Linked DNA regions of Homo sapiens. The protein of the gene in region 2 purifies or fractionates together with the protein of the main gene of each other region. This does not show direct contact. Each region holds a gene or a part of one and is shown on either strand. Other genes may lie near its edges.

Evidence for each region. The genes of interacting proteins can lie anywhere in the genome.
Region 1: the proteins of BCCIP (region 2) and TENT2 purify together in Homo sapiens (affinity purification with mass spectrometry; 3 studies listed by BioGRID and IntAct, with this or other methods). This does not show direct contact.

The regions. Positions count from the first base shown.
Region 1 is NC_000005.10:79,608,106-79,615,440, forward strand, and holds the start of TENT2 (poly(A) RNA polymerase GLD2), read left to right. Parts: upstream 1-4,335; 5' UTR 4,336-4,970; intron 4,971-5,112; exon of another isoform or gene 5,113-5,142; intron 5,143-5,829; exon of another isoform or gene 5,830-6,455; intron 6,456-7,335. UniProt on the Homo sapiens protein: Cytoplasmic poly(A) RNA polymerase that adds successive AMP monomers to the 3'-end of specific RNAs, forming a poly(A) tail. In contrast to the canonical nuclear poly(A) RNA polymerase, it only adds poly(A) to selected cytoplasmic mRNAs.
Region 2 is NC_000010.11:125,833,422-125,837,051, forward strand, and holds the end of BCCIP (BRCA2 and CDKN1A-interacting protein), read left to right. Parts: intron 1-350; coding exon 351-525; intron 526-2,682; coding exon 2,683-2,853; 3' UTR 2,854-3,130; downstream 3,131-3,630. Other genes in the region: putative pre-mRNA-splicing factor ATP-dependent RNA helicase DHX32, read right to left, coding at 3,266-3,434. UniProt on the Homo sapiens protein: During interphase, required for microtubule organizing and anchoring activities. During mitosis, required for the organization and stabilization of the spindle pole.

The DNA.
Region 1 (7,335 bases), on a different chromosome or scaffold from region 2:
CTCCAACTCCTGGCCTCAAGCAATCCTCCCGCCTTGGCCTCCCAAAGGGTTGGGATTACAGGTAATTACAAATACAGTTGCTATGAACATTTGTGTACAAGTCCTTCTGTGGACATGTGCTTTCATTTCTTTTGAGTAAATACCTAGGGATGGAATGTCTGAATCATATGCAAATAAATGTATGCTTACCCTTTTAAGAAACTTCCTAAGTTTTTTCCAAAGTGCTTGTACCATTTCATATTCCCATTAGTAGTGTATGAGTTTCAGTTGCTCTATGTTCTGACAAATTCTTGGTATGACTAGTCTTTTGGAATTTACCATCAAATAGGTAGGGTATGTTGTTGAGGTCTTAATTTATATTTTTCTCTTAATCTGTATTTCTTCTAATGACTAATGATGTTGCATATCTTTTCATGCCTTTATTTGTCATCCATATATGGCTTCTTTGATGAAATGTCTCTTCAAACCTTTTGCCCATTTTTTTGGGTTACTATTGAGGTATGAGAGTTCAAAAAATAGACACTCTGGATATAAATTTTTTTTTTTTTTTTTTTTTTTTTTTTTTTGTGGACAGAGTCTTGCCCTGTCACCCAGGCTGGAGTGCAATGGCGTGATCTCGGCTCACTGCAACCTCTGCCTCCCGGGTTCAAGTGATTCTCCTGCTTCAGCCTCCCAAGTAGCTGGGACTACAGGCGCCTGCCACCATGCCAGGCTAATTTTTGTATTTTTAGTAGAGTCGGGGTTTCACCATATTGGCCAGGCTGGTCTCGAACTACTGACCTTGTGATCCACCCACCTCGGCCTCCCAAAGTGCTGAGATTACAGGCGTGAGCCATCTTGCCCAGCCTGGATATAAATTATTTACCAGGGCCTGGCATGATGGCTCACACTTGTAATTCCGGCACTTAGAGAGTCTGAGGCAGGTGGATTGCTTGAGTCAAGGAGTTCGAGACCAGCCTGGGCAACATGGGGAAACTCCATCCTCTATAACAAATACAATAATTAATCAGGCATGGTGGTGCACACCTGTAGTCCCAGCACTAAGGAAGTTGAGGTGGGAGGATCACTTGAGCCTGGGAAGTCGAGGTAGCAGTGAGTCGTGAGCATGCCACTACACTCCAGCTCTTTTGAGACACAGCAAGACCCTATCTCAAAAAAAAAAAAAAAAAAAAAAACAACCACACACACACATTCTTATCAGATACGTGATTTGCAAATAGCTGCTTCAGTTTTTGGCTTGTCTTTCCATTCTCTTTCTGGGGCTGCAGTGACCTATCATAATGCCATCATACTCCTGGGCTCAAGTGATTCTCTGCCTCATCCTCTCAAGTAGCTGGGACTACAGGTGCATGCCACCATGCCCGCCTCAAATTTTTGATGCTGTTGTAGATGGTATTTTAAATTTCAATTTCAGATTGTTTATTGCTGGTGTACTACAAATGCCATTGACATTTGTGTATTGATTTTACGACCTGTAGTCTTGGTCATTTATTTGATCTGATAGTTTTTTGTAGATTTTGTGCCAGAGTTTTCAATAAATAAAACAAATAAAACCAGTTTTACTTCCTTCTTTGCTAATTTGAATGCCTTTTTTTTTTCCTTGCCTTATTGCACAGGCTAGAATCCCCAGTACAATATTGAACATAAGTTGTCAGAGCAGAAATCCTTGCCTTGTTCCTGATCTTAAGTTGAAAGCACTGTTCTTCACCATTAAGTGTGATGCTTTTTATAGACACTCTCTATCAAGTTGAGGAAGTTTCCTTGTAATCTTAGGAATGGATACTGGATTTTGTCCAATGCATTTGCTGCATGTATTGAGATTATCAAATGGTTTTTCTTTTTTAGTTTGTTAATATGGTAAATTACATTGCTTGATTTACCAATGCTAATTCAACCTTGCATTCCTAGGATAAGCCCCTGTTTGGTTATAATGTATTATCTTTTTTATATATTTTTATGTATTTATATATTTATATATCTTTTTTATATAATCTACTTTTTACTGCCTTGTCTCATGTAAACCTGTGTAATTTCCCATTGGGTCCACCTTAGGAAACAGTCTTTAAAGTTTTCTCCGTAAAGCAAGTACCAGTATACTCTTTTATGGTCAATACAATGCTAATTCAACCTTGCATTCCTAGGATAAGCACCTGTTTGGATATAATGTATTATCTTTTTTATATACTGTGAAATAAAAGTGACTAGAATTGTGCATATTATGTTTATGAGAGATATTGGTCCATAGTTTGCTTGTTTAATATCTAGAGTTTGGGTATTAGTGTAATGCTGGCCCCACAGAATGAGCTGGGAAGTATTCCCTCCTCTTCAATTTTTGGAGGACTTTATCTAGAATTGGAATTATGTTTTCCTTATATATACCATGTTAACACCCTACAAAAGAAAGCCTAAGTAGCTGTAATACTATCAGACAAAATATACTTCAGAGCAAAGAACATTATCAGCAAAGAGGAGGGTCATTTGTAAAGTGGATAATTTCATAATAATGAAACTTTCATAAAGGATAAATTCATACAAATAAGAGAATAACTATGTTTATGCAACTAATAGCTGAGCTGCAAAGTACATGAAGCAGAAATTGATAGAACTACAATTGAAAAAAACCAGTAATAGTCAGAAATTTCAATACTCTCAATAATTAGTAGAATAAGTAGACAGTAAATCAGAAAGGATATAGATTTGAACACTAATATCAACCAACTTGACATGATTGACATTTATAGAACACTCCATGCAACAACTGCAAAAAACACATTCATTTCAAATGCACAGTGAGTATTTACCAAGACAGACTATATACTCTGGGCCACAGAACAAGTGTCAATAAGTTTAAAATTATTAATAGTGTACGAAGTACCTTCTCTGATCACAATGGGATTAAATCAGAAATCAGTAACAGGCAGCTACCTGGAAAACTCCTCCACATTTGCAGACCAACACTTACAAAAAACCCATGGTCAAAAAAAGAAAGCAATAGGGAAATTACAAAGTATTTTGAAATGAAGGAAAATGAAAATACAATATATCAAAATATGTGGAATGTAGCTAAAACAGTATAGAGGGACACTTATCACACCAAATGCCTGTACAAACAAGAGACATCTAAAATTAATGGTCATCAGTTTCTGAGTTAAGAAACTAGAGAAACAAAACAAGAAATTTAAAAATTAAAAAATAGCAGAGTAAAGGAAACAATAAACATAAGAGCAGAAATCAATAAAATAGAAAACAGAAAACCAGTAGAGAAAATCCAAGAAAGCAAAAACGGGCTTTGAGATTTGAGATCCGTAAACCGAGAAGCCCCTCACCAGATCGATCAGAAAAAAAGATGACACACAAATTACCAATTTCAGAACCTGAGGGGTCAGATTTTATAGACATTAAGTGGACAATAAAGGAATACAGCTAACAGATTTGCATTATTAAACAATTTAGACATTTCTACAAATTATTAAAGCTCACTCAAGAGGCGATATCAATAAATATTTGTTGAATTAGTGAATACCAGCTATTACTATGGGCAAGGCGCTAAGTCCAGGCTTTAGAGAGAAAGAAAGCATTTTTTTTTTTTTTTTTTTTTGAGACAAAGTCTTGCTCTGTCGCCCAGGCTGGAGTGCTGTGGCACGATCTCGGCTCACTGCAACCTCCGCCTCCCGGGTTCAAGCGATTCGCCAGCCTCAGCCTCTTGAGTAGCGGGGTTACAGGCGCACGCCACCAAGCTCGGCTAATTTTTGTATTTTTAGTAAAGATGGGGTTTCACCATGTTGGCCAGGCTGGTCTCGAACTCCTGACCTCGTGATCCGCCCGCCTCAGCCTCCCAAAGTGCTAGGATTACAGGGGTGAGCCACCGCGTCCGGCCAAAGAAAGCATTTTCCTTCCAAAGAAGCTCTCAGGTTACTGGAGGGGCAAAAGAACAGATAAAGTTTAATGTTGCTCCGGGGGAGAAGATTAGGGGAACACTGGTTAAAGAAAGGCTTCTCTGGGGACAAGTCACTCGGCCAACACACGAAGGACCCACAGAAAACGTCTGTTACAGCTAGAACGGCTGCACGTGAGTTCAGGCAAGGGGCCCAGAAGTGGCCCTCCGGCGACTGCCTGCTCCACCCCTCTTAGTGCAGTCCTAACCCTTTCCCAACTTGTGCTGGCAGCAGTTAAGAAACTCCTTTCAAATCCGGCTGTCTTGCGCCTGCGCATTCAAGCAAAGCGCTCATAGGCGGGGTGGGGGGGGTGGGGGGGGTTGGGGGGTGGGGGGGGTTGGGGGGTGGGAGGGAGGCGGCCACCGGAAGTGTGACCTTTCGCTCCCCGCTGCCTATTCTCATCCGGGGTCACGTCGGTCTTCCGGGTGTCTTTGACAGGGTTTTCTACGCCGCTTTTTCGGCGACTTTTTGCTCTTCCGCTTTTTGCCACCGCCCCCAACCTTCTATATCCTTGCAGCCCCTACCTTTTCTTGTGTTGCTCCTCCCCTGGCAGCCGTGAGGGGGGTTAGATCTCAGCCGGAGCCGGAGCTGGGCCTAGCTGTCCCACGGGCCACCACTACCTCCTTTGGTTCGGGAGAAAGCTACGACCAAGTACGCCCAGCTCGGGCCTTAGAACTTCTGAACGGGCAGTGCGGGTAGGCCCTGCTTAGCCCTTCCCGGAGGACACCTGTGAGTTTAGGGGGTTTCGGAGAGGAACGCAGCAGTGTAGGCCCAGGTCGGCGGCGGGGCACGGGAAACTTTTCCGAAACGGTAGCGTTTTGTTTTGCGTGGGAGGTTCCAGCAGTATCTCTTGGTTATTCCAAATTTATGGGCGGCATCTGGGCTGCTGTACATTTTGAAGAATCTTAGGACCGCTTACTTTGCTTACTCGTTTTCTATTCCTCGCGTACTGCCTCGTCCACCACTCCAGGACCAAAAGAGGAAGATAGTCTTGGGACCCTTGCATGGTGTTTCAAAGGGTGGTGAAGAACTAAGGTACGTAGCTGGATTAATTAAAAAATTTAAAAGGCATTTATCTTTTAAGCCTTAATTAAATGGCATGAAATTGCTTCAGCTTTTCACTTTATAGGAAAATGCACAGGTTAAGACTGTTGTGTGCGTTTCTTTTCTTGTTCAGCCTTTGTAGAAAAGCTCTTCGTCTCTCAAGGTGAGAACACGAAAGGCTTATATGTCTCAAAACTTATGGATTCTCTAAATTACTTGTCTTATCTCTTTCAACTCTTTGTTTAAAGTAGCAGATATTTTTCATTAGGGTGAACAGAGAAGAAACAAAGGGAAACTGTAAAACACAAGCTAAATAACACATGTGCAGTGTATGATTTTGTGAAGAAAGAGATTGTAACTGATTACTAAATCTGTGTTTTTATATTACAGGTAACATAGTAACTTTTGTAAATATCTTCATATTGTATGGTTCAGTACCACCAGGCTTCTAACACGTACTGATTAACAGCCATAAGGCTATTAATTTATACTGATTAATAGCCAGTAATAGTGACGTTACTTTGTTGGTGTGAATAGCCCTAATTATGTCTGTTCTGGAAATGTCCTGTAACAGGTTCCATGTGAAATAGGCCGTTTATGAGTTGTTTAAGAAATGCCCATTTGGAGCCATGTGACTAGATTATTTTTTTGAACACTTGGGTGTAATTTAATTCTTAACCAAAAGGAATATCCTGTTCAAAACCTGGAAGTAGTTTTCACAGTGGGTTGGCAGGATTTAGGAACTGGATTTTTCGTATTGTGGAGAAAAGTGGGTTTGAGATATCAAAGGTATTTGGACAAAATGGACAGTATCTTGGTTTAGCCAGTAAATTTCTGGTTTTCATTCTAGGTATATTCTGCTTTCTAAAGAATCCTGATGAAGGAATTATATATAACCTTGAGTGTTCTCTAATTTGTTGGAGGAGAGGTCAAGTTGAGGACAGAAATTCCAGGTTGCAAATTCCAGGACCAAATACTTTATAACTAGAAATTACTAGGAATTAATCTTTTTTTTTTTTTTTTTTTTTTTTTTTGCAAGACGGAATCTTGATCTTGTCACCCAGGCTACAGTGCAATGGCACTATCTTGGCTCACTGCAGCCTCTGCCTCCTGGGTTCAAGCGATCTCCTGCCTCAGCCTGCCGAGTAGCTGGGATTACAGGCACGTGCCACTATGCTTGGCTAATTTTTGTATTTTTAGTAGAGGCAGGGTTTCACCATGTTGGCCAGGCTGGTCTCCAACTCCTGACCTCAGGTGATCCATCCGCCTCGGCCTCCCAAAGTGCTGGGATTACAGGCGTGAGCCACTGTGCCCGGCCGAATTAATCTACTCTTTTACTACCTTGTCTCATGTAAACCTGTGTAATTTCCCATTGGGTCCACCTTAGGAAACCGTCTTTAAGGTTTTCTCCGTAAAGAAAGTACCAGTATACTCTTTCATGGTCAAGTACAGATTGTGGAACTGATAACTTTTAAGGTAAGGAAAATTGGATATTGCCAATATCTGGATTTTATGTATCTATCATAAAATTTGTCACATAGGAGATGGTAGAAGACCATAGTTAATGTGGAGTAACGTTTTATATAGCTAATCTCTACTTAAGAAACCTTTCATTCAGAGTATGAAGAAAATGATTTAAAATTTTGTGGAGGTCCCCTTATTTCTGTTACAGTAATAGTTTTACTGTATTTTGTGAAACTCTACAGTCTCTTTAAAAAAATGATTATGTTGTTTATGATAATTGTTTTGATGTCATTTTTATTTTCATCAAAATCAATGTGAAATGTATTAGAAAAAGGCATAGAAATTCATAGGCGTTTCATTTACTTCCTCAACTCTAGATGTCTTTCAGAATACCTATATTGGTGAGCATAGAACGAATGCGTCGGAATGATTTTCCTCTACTTGAAGCCTACCTTCTTTAAAAAGAGCCTGACTTGAGGGCCAAAATTCATACTGAGGAGAGGCTGACAGATCCTTTGTTTTGCAGGGGCTCCAGAGCTTGATATATTTCTGGGAATTTGGAATATGCTAAACTAGATTTCTGCCCTAGACTAAACATCTGGCTGTGGACTCAATCTAAGTTTTTAAGCTGGGGATAATTTGGTCATTAACTTGGTAGAGTAGTTCTGAGCCACAAGTCATCTTTAGACTTAGTTTGGATTTGGCTGTGTAAGAGATGAAAACAAGGTGAGGCCTGGGCTCTTGATGTCATTTTGCATCTTCAAATCTTAATATACATGGACCTTATTCAGTTATAGAGGAAAAACAGCATATTTTTTATAGGTATAAACAAAAGTATCTAGGCTTTTTGCTATGAACCGATTTAAATAAACCTGAAAGTACAAGATTTTAA
Region 2 (3,630 bases):
TGCTTTAAAAAATTCAAAAATTCAGATTCGTATATATTTTTAACTTATGCACAGGCAGAGCAGTGATACATTGAGTGAATTTGAGACTCATCTGATCTGTTAGTTGCTATATATCCACAAATCAGCATAATCTGAGAGATATATCATAGTATTATAAAAAGTAATACATAATCTAAAATGCAACTGATTATGTAAATAAAAATCATTCCTGTAGACTAAGTGTTCAGATTGAATGCCTGCGTCACAGCAGAACCCACTGAAGATGCCTCACCGGGTTTTCTGTGCTCTGGTTTGTTGATGGATTTCACTTGACCCAGCAGGTAAACAAATGTTGTGTGTGTGCCTTGCAGGAAAGAACTGGCGGGGGCACACAGAACCAATAAGCCATGTGGGAAGTGCTACTTTTACCTTCTGATTAGTAAGACATTTGTGGAAGCAGGAAAAAACAATTCCAAAAAGAAACCTAGCAACAAAAAGAAAGCTGCGTTAATGTTTGCAAATGCAGAGGAAGAATTTTTCTATGAGGTAAGACTATCCTGCTTATTTGTTTAGATGTAAATAAGGATTTTCTTGAAAATGATTTATCAAGATTTATTGTTCTCCCACTTTAGGTCCAAGTCTTTCAAGTGTGGCTACTCTGTTTTTCTGTTTCCCCACAGGACCTAGCAGCTAACATAGTGCCAGGTGCATAGTAGGTACTCAGGAGGCTAGGCACCAGCCTCCTTGCCTGCACTGTGGTTATGAGCATGAGGAGGAGGAGGAGAAAAGTGATTAACCTGTTAAGAATGATTAGGCATTTATAATATGCTTCCTGTGAAATCTTTCATTCTAAAACCATGCGGAGAGGTAGACATTAGCCTGGGGTTTACAGATGTGGACTTTAAGGCATAGGGAAATGAGGGAAATTACCTGCGATCACACAGCTGGTCAGTGTGGAAGCTGGGGCACCCCTGCTGCTCTGTGTCCTTAGTCGTGGATGTCATCCTGCTGGTGGGATATCTCCAGCATTTTTTTCCTATAAAGGTAGCTTGTACTGTGATGGACAGCCATATACCAGAGAATATTCTTACCCTCTCTTCCTCTGAAAAATCTTGAAGTGGGCCAGGTGCGGTGGTGCACACCTGTAATCCCAGCACCTTGGGAAGCTGAGGCGGGCAGATCACCTGAGGCCAGAAATTCAAGACCAGCCTGGCCAACAGGGAGAAACCCCATCTCTACTAAAAATACAAAAAAAAAAAAATTAGCCGGGCATGGTGGCAGATGCCTGTAATCCCAGCTACTCGGAAGGCTAAGGCAGGAAAATTGCTTGAACCTGGGAGGCAGAGGCTGCAGTGAGCCGAGATCGCGCCACTGCACTCCAGCCTGAGCAACAAGGAAGAAACTCCGTCTCAAAAACAAACAAACAAACAAAAAACACAAAAACATCTTGAGCCAGGCACGGTGGCTCACGCCTGTAATCCCAGCACTTTGGGAGGTCAAGGCGGGTGGATCACGAGGTCAGGAGATCGAGACCATCCTGGCTAACATGGTGAAACCCCGTCTCTACTAAAAAATACAAAAAATTAGCCGGGCGTGGTGGCACGTGCCTGTAGTCCCAGCTACTCGGGAGGCTGAGGCAGGAGAATGGCATAAACCCGGGAGGCGGAGCTTGCAGTGAGCCGAGATTGCGCCACTGCACTCCAGCCTGGGCGACAGAGCGAGACTCTGTCTCAGAAAAAAAAAAATCTTGAAGTGTATCTCTGAGGGGAACATATTTTCCTGAATTGGATGATATCACATCACTTTGAAGACTTCTGCAGAAGACTAAAGCGCTACAAATTTAGCTGTGCCCTTCTTTTCCAGGAAGTAAATAGTAAACATAATTTTTAAAAAACATAGGCCGGGTGCGGTGGCTCATGCCTGTAATCCCAGCACTTTGGGAGGCCAAGGCGGGCGGATCACGAGGTCAGGAGATCAGACCATCCTGGCTAACACGATGAAACGCTGTCTTTACTAAAAATACAAAAAATTAGCCAGGCACAATGGTGGGCACCGGTAGTCCCAGCTACTTGGGAGGCTGAGGCAGGAGAATGGTGTGAACCCGGGAGGCAGAGCTTGCGGTGAGCCGAGATCACGCCACTGCACTCCAGCCTGGGTGACAGAGTGAGACTCTGTCTCAAAAAAAAAAAACAAACAAACAAAAAAAACAAAACCATATGCTTCAACACCTCAGGTTGACCATTTGGGGGGAGTGTGTATGGGTGTTTTAAGATGGCGGGGTATGCAGATTTACTCTGTCTTCACACAAAAGCCTGATGCTAAGGAAGCAGCTGAGAAAGTGAGAAAAGAGTGTTTGAAGACAAGTTCTTGTTAAATATCAAATTTTACAAGTCTTAATTTCATTATGTTTCACAAGATTATTTTGACAATTAAATGAAAATACCACTTAGCTGCTTGTTCACCTCTTAGAAATTGCACACCTCTATCCCTGTTCCTCATGTGGGTTTAAAATCTACTTGGTTTGTGTTTTATAACTTCTGCCTGAATGTCCCATTTGAACTTTTTCAATTCTGAGTTTTGCTTTTTTTTAGCTCTCATTCTTATTTAAGCATATGCCAAACGTAATATTCTTTGCCGTAGATCAAATGGGTTTTGTCTTTGGGTTGTCCCGATTTTTAATTCATGGTTACTTATTTGGTTTAGAAGGCAATTCTCAAGTTCAACTACTCAGTGCAGGAGGAGAGCGACACTTGTCTGGGAGGCAAATGGTCTTTTGATGACGTACCAATGACGCCCTTGCGAACTGTGATGTTAATTCCAGGCGACAAGATGAACGAAATCATGGATAAACTGAAAGAATATCTATCTGTCTAACCCATTTCCAATGGACAGTGATGGGCTTGTTTTTGTAAAATTACCAGAAAACTCAGTGGAGATTTACTGAAAAACTCAGACTTTATTCAGATTAAGTTCCTCTACAAAAAGTAGGGTTCTGTCCCATGTGTCTCTGACACATTTACAAAATACCAGTTTTTTAAAATTTTGGTCAAATTATGAGTGGTTGATTTAAAAACTTTTCCAAGAAGAAGAAAAGCATGGAGTAGTAATTTAAAGAACTCAATAAAAACTTCTATTTTTTATTTTAAAATAATATACACAGTGTTATTTTCTTCAAGACCGTCCTGTGGATGTGAAATCCGTCTTCGCGTCATGTATCTCCCATATCCAGCAGTTCAGCCATCCAGCTACCTTTGGGACCCTGCTGCACCTTGTGTTTGCTGGGGAGTCACTGGAGAGTGCATCTCTGTTCAGTTTCAGGGCACGTCTCACACATTTGCTGTTCCTTATTCATTGTTGACACAGGGGATAGGTGATCCACTACTTGCTGTAGAATGTCCTTACTTTCACTAGGAGGCAGATTACTGAAATAGTATTGTGGTACCAGCTGCATAAATCTGTTTATTTAAGACAAAAAGATGAGATTATGAGTGGGGAAGGTGGTGAGAGACACCAAACATTATGTCTGGGCACTTCCCATCCCTGGAGAATCTACCTGTAGAACCGGTATTTAATTTGAACTCAGATAGTATCTCAGTCCGACTTTGTAAAATAAATACTTTCTGTTTTTTATGCAGCCAATCCTGTTGCATT